Regions from separate parts of the Homo sapiens genome. Here region 2 is linked to region 1. Evidence: fine-mapped expression QTL. Tissue or cell type: nucleus accumbens. Region 1 holds a variant in brackets; the other region holds the start of a gene. All regions are shown on one strand. Distances are between the middles of the regions.

The links. PIP is the estimated chance that this variant, and not a neighbour inherited with it, causes the effect.
Region 2: SPATA9 starts here. The variant in region 1 is the best candidate, but not a certain one, in a credible set for the expression of SPATA9 in nucleus accumbens (GTEx, PIP 0.57).

What each region holds. Positions count from the first base shown.
Region 1 is chr5:95,628,698-95,631,615 of GRCh38, reverse strand. All of the region lies in intron 1 of LOC112267933 (a long non-coding RNA gene), which reads left to right. Among named protein-coding and RNA genes, the nearest start is that of GPR150, 10 kb to the right of the region's middle. The variant G/A (reference allele first, on the strand shown) is at 1,721.
Region 2 is chr5:95,681,579-95,684,496 of GRCh38, reverse strand. SPATA9 (spermatogenesis associated 9) reads left to right here and starts at 1,506. Exons shown (of 5, transcript NM_031952.4): 1 at 1,506-1,703; 2 at 1,881-1,969. The coding sequence starts at 1,643. All of the region lies in intron 1 of LOC105379090 (a long non-coding RNA gene), which reads right to left.

The DNA.
Region 1 (2,918 bases):
AGATAAACTTTGGCACATTACAATTTTCGAGTTTATTTAGGCAGACAGTGATTCATGAGTCAGGCAGCTCCAAACTGACAGTGGCTTGGGCTCTTCTGAAAGGGTTCAAGGGGAAGCCCTTTATAGGGTGAATGCAGAAGCAGAGCAAAGAAATTATTTTATTGGTAAAAGTTTAAGCAGTTGCCTCATTTGGATTATCCCAGTGGGAAGTTCAAGACAATATGACTAATGCCCAGTTGGCCTCTTGTAATTGGCTGAGCTCCAGTTTCATTTTCTTTTAAATTCTAAGTTAGCTTTTGGTTTGCTTAAGTAGGAACCCAGGGCATCAGAGACACATCAATCTAATGGCTTCCTATTTAATTATTTTAACAATTATTATTATTCCTATTGAATATCTTGCTTAATACAACAATACTAGAACTGCTAAAGTATGTCAATAGCAGGAGCTTCATCACAAGAAAAAAAGGGGATTTGGTTAGGGCCTGACTCTATCCCTTGAATTTAACCTTCCCCTTGGAGCTCTCGCATTTCATTATTGGTGTGAAATCTCATCAAATTATATGATAAGCAGTTAAACATCCCAATTTGACATGTTATTGGAGACTAGAATCCAGGTCTTCTGAAATCTGGGTTTTCTGACTCCCTTTTTTAATGCATTCACCACCATTTTACCAGTCTATCGATTATTTAGTTACCTTTTGCTGTGAAACAAACCACCCTGAAACTTACCGGCTTAAAATGATTTATTATGTCTCACAGTTCTGTGTGTTAACTCAACAGTTCTTCTGTTGATCTCCCCTGGGCCCACTCACGCGGGTGCACTTATTAATAGCTGGAGAGTCAGTTGGAGGCTATGCCCAGCTGGGATGGCTGAGTGGTTAGGCCTCTGTTTCCACATGGTCTTCATAGCATGACAATGTCACATCAGCTTTTCTGAAAGGGCAAGCTGTCATGTATAAATGTTTATTGAGTTCCTACTTGTGAAACATCTGTACACAATGCCCCATTGGCCAAAGAAGGTCACATGACCAAATTCAGACTACGTGTGAGGAAAGATTACCCAAGAGTGGGTATTAGGAGGAGTTATTCATTGGGGGCCATTACTGTAATAATCTACCTAATATGGTTTGGATCTGTGCCCCCACCAAATCTCACATTGAATTATATTCCCCAGTGTTGAAGGTGGGGCCTTGTGGGAGGTGATCGGATCATGGAGGTGGAGTTCTTATGAATGGTTTAAAGCCATCCCCCTTGGTATTGTATAGTGTGTGATTTCTCACAAGATCTAGTTGTTTAAGTGTGCAGCACCTCCCCACTCTCTCTCTTGCTCCGGCTCCAGCCATGTAAAATGTGACTGCTTCTCCTTCACCTCCTGCCATGATTGTAAGTTTCCTGAGGCCTCCCCAGAAAAGAAGTCACTGTGCTCCCTGTACAGCCTGCAGAACCATAAGCCAATTAAACCTCTTTTCTTTATAAACTACCCAGTCTCAGGTATTTCTTTTCTTTTTTTTGAGACGGAGTTTTGCTCTTGTTGCCCAGGCTGGAGTGCAACGGCACAATCTCTGCTCACTGCAACCTCTGCCTTCTGGGTTCAAGCAATTCTTCTGCCTCAGCCTCCCAAGTAGCTGAGATTACAGGCATGTGCCACCACGCCCGGCTAATTTTGTATTTTAGTAGAGTTGGGGTTTCTCTATGTTGGTCAGGCTGGTCTCAAACTCCC[G/A]ACCTCAGGTGATCCGCCCACCTCGGCTTCCCAAAGTGCTGGGATTATAGGTGTGAGCCACCATGCCCGGCCTCAGGTGTTTCTTTATAGCAGTGCAAGAATGGACTAGTACAGAAAATTGGTATCATGAGTCGGGGATTGCTATAAAGATACCTGAAAATGTGGAAACAGCTTTGGAACTGGGTAATGGGCAGAGATTGAAACAGTTTGGAGGGCTCAGAAGAAGACAGGAAGATGAAGGAAAATTTGGAACTTCCTAGTGACTTTTGTGACCAAAGTGCTGATAGTAATATGGACAATGAAGTCCAGGCTGAAGAGACCTCAGATGGAAATGAGGAACCTATTGGGAACTGGAGCAAAGGTTACTTTTGTTATGCTTTAGCAAAAAACTTGGAGGCATTGTGCCCCTTCCCGATGGAGCAGTGAAACTTCTAACTTGAGAGTAATGATTTAGGGTATCTAGTGGAAGAAATTTCTAAGCAGCTTAGAAATGTGACCTTGCTGCTTTTAACAACCTGTGCTTATATGTATGAGCAAATAAATGACCTGAAACTGGACCTTATATTCAAAAGGGAAGCAGAGTGTAAAAGTTTGGAGAATTTGTAGCCTGGCCATGTGATAGAAAAGAAAAGCCCATTTTCAGGGGAGGAATTCAAGCAGCCTGCAGAAATTTGCATAACTAAAAGGAAGGCAAGTGCTGATAGCCAAGACAATAGGGGAAAGGCCTCAAAGGCATTTCAGATCTTGTGGCAGCCCTTCCCATTACAGGCCCAGAGGCCGAGGAGGACTGAATGAATTCCTGGGCCAGGTTCAGGGTCCCCCTGCCCTGCACAGCCTAAGGACACTACTCCCTGCATCCCAGCTGCCCCAGCTCTAGTCATGGCTAAAAGGGGCCCAGACACAGCTCAGGCTGCTGCTTCAGAGGGTGCAAGCTGTAAGCCTTGGTGGCTTCCACATGGTATTAACCCTGTGAGTGCACAGAATGCAAGAGTTGAGGCTTGGGAGCCTCTGCCTAGATTTCAGACCGTGTATGGAGAAGCCTGGATGTCCAAGAAGAAACCTGCTGCAGGGGCAGAGCCCTTACTGAGAACCTCTACTAAGGAAGTACAGAGGGGAAATGTGGGGTTGGAGCCTCCACGCAGTCCCCAGTGGGGCACTGCTAATGGAGCTTTGAGAAGAGGGCCACCATCCTCCAGAC
Region 2 (2,918 bases), 53 kb before region 1:
TAGATTTGTTAATTTTATAGGATGCCTAGGAGGGAGAGGACTGATGAAAAGAGAAGAAAATTGGGTAAAACCAGTTGGGCAATGACATTGGAATCAGTGGATAAAAAGAACTAGGGGATGGTGGAAGGGAGGAGAATGGAGAACAGGGAGGAAGACCAGAAAGAGAAGGATCTGCCAGGTGTTCATCTGCAGTGGACGCTGATGACCAACTATCTTGCTAGGACAGATAAAGTATTTCATTATCTCATAGACTCCCAGCGTGTGTATTCATCATTGTCTAGTATGATTTTCTTTGTACCGATGGATTGCACTTTCCAAATGTTAAGGGCATAGTTATCTTAACCATGAGAGTCATGAGAGGCAAGCAGGTTCTATTTTGGTTAGGAGAGGTGAATGTGGTATGGCGGAGGGTGTTCTAAGGCAGATTGTGGACTAAGAACACCATGAGAGCTGGGGATTTTCAGGCTTCCCATGCTAGAGGAATCCTGGGATGAAGATTTCTCTTTCCCAAACTGTTCCCATGAAGACACTTTCAGCAGCCGTGGCTTTATGCTTGCTGAAGAAAGTGGTCTAGCTGCAATTAAATATGAGGGCTTCAAATTAGAATGGGATTCAGGTTAACCAACTATTTCATTCACACTAAAATATAACTAGGCTGTCGGCCGGGCGTGGTGGCTCACATCTGTAATCCCAGCACTTTGGGAGGCCGAGGCAGGCGGATCATGAGGTCAGGAGATGGAGACCATCCTAGCTAACACGGTGAAACCCCGTCTCTACTAAAAATGCAAAAAGTTAGCCAGGCGTGGTGGTGGGTGTCTGTAGTCCCAGCTACTCGGGAGGCTGAGACAGGAGAATGGTGTGAACCCGGGAGGCTGAGGTTGCAGTGAGCCAAGATCGCGCCACTGCACTCCAGCCTGGGCAACAGGGCAAGACTCCATCTCAAAAAACAAACAAACAAACAAACTATATATATATAAAACTAGGCAGTCAATCAAGTCTGCATGGTATCAAGTTCTTCCCATATTTGATCGGGGGAACTAATGGTCATCTGACATGTGAGGGTACTAGGAGGGTAAAAGATGAAGAAAAGAGATTGAGATTATAAAGCAGAGAAACCAAAGACTTTACAGTTTTGCCCGAGTTTGACCTAGTGATCCTCATTGGTGAAGCAAAAACAATCTATTCAGAAGTCTTTCTGAATTCACTGCTGGTGTTTCTTTTCTATTTGGCATCATATATAAAGCATTTCTTTTAAAGCACATGCCATTTTTTTTCAAAGGGACCTTTTGTTCTCAGATGATCCATTATTTGTGGTATCACTGCAGAATTTGGGACAAATTTCAACTTATATCATAGAACTCCTTAGTGTACTTTATTATTCAATCCCCTCACTCCTTCCCTTATGCCTCCAAACACACTCCTCTTCCTCTCACTGCCAGAGTGATGTCAGAAGATTCTGTAGCAGGTTCTCGGAAGCCTATTGTACAGTAACAAAGAATTCCAGCAGTGAGCTGTGAGTTCTGTCCTTGCTGGCTTTCCCAAGTGGAAGGCTACCCTCATCTTTCACTAATGGCAGACTAGGACAAGCATTACCCAGGCCTGCAAGCTTGTTAAGGACTAGGAACCCAAGCAAGAACTCACCATGCCAATCAAACCTGTTGGGTGGATATGTGGGCAGGTGTTGAAGAACTTTTCTGGAAGAAGTATACACAATCTTGTTGTAAAGGGCGTATGGGTGTGGGAACAATTGGGAATAAGATCCCCTAGAGTTCCTTTACTTTCCGAGTCATCTAGGAATTTGATCAAGTGTTTCATGTTCTTTTGAAACATTTAGGGGATGTTTTCAAAGTTTTCTTTTTCCTAACCTCTTTTTGTCTTAGTCGAGGGGATCCAGAAAGCAATCATGGACCTTGTAGATGAGTTTAAAGATGAATTTCCCACCATCCTAAGATTATCACAGTCTAATCAGGTAATGTGATTTTATAACCTTTAAAAGGAATAGAAAAAATATATTCTATTTTTAGTATCATACCCATTATTTAATGCTTGATTTTGAGATCAGTGATCAAAACTTTAGAAAACACTAATTTTGCCTCAGAAAAACAAATTTCAAATATTACTCATTAAGAGGGGTCTTTGGGAAGCAGAGAGATTGTGGACCAAGAAGTGAGGTAGATTGAGAATTAAGTTTAAAGACATTAACTATGTCATTAGGGTAAACACCTGGCAGTCTCTCAACACTACAATTGCAATGTAAAATCAGAAAAATACCTAGATACACTTTAGCAAAAATCTATGTCAAATCAGTGCAAAACCTTGAGATAAATTGTAACAATGGAAAGATAAATACAACATGGATGTGTGTTTAATAAGGAAAGAAAACAGTAGTATCAATTTAAATAAGGTATACATGTATATTTTTTAAACCTCTGTTCCAAAAAGGATTTGAAACAGATAAAATATTGGGAGTGAAAGAGGAGGGAGGTATATATTTTGAAGAGACATAAAGTCAGGAAAAAGTAACAACTTGTTTAGGGAACACATGTAACCTAATTTACTCAAAGGCACACAGCTCTTAATGGAAAAATGTGGTTCGGTCATTTTGATCATAGTTGGAATAGAATATGCTGTGAAGGTACATGGTACAGGAACAATCCACTTATCCAGAAGTCAGACTCTTGACAATGTCAAACATGAGGTATATAACCAAAACCTGGCAGTTAACAAAAAGCACTCTGATTAACACAGTAATCACAAAGTATACATATTTCATTCCAAAGGAGGGATATTAGAGCTAACTTTAACCACGCCTGCAGACAACCAGCCATCAGACATTTAGTAAACACCTCACTATTGCTTGGGACTGGAGAGAGGAAATACAGAGATAAACACGACGTGATCCTTTCCGCTAATGAGCT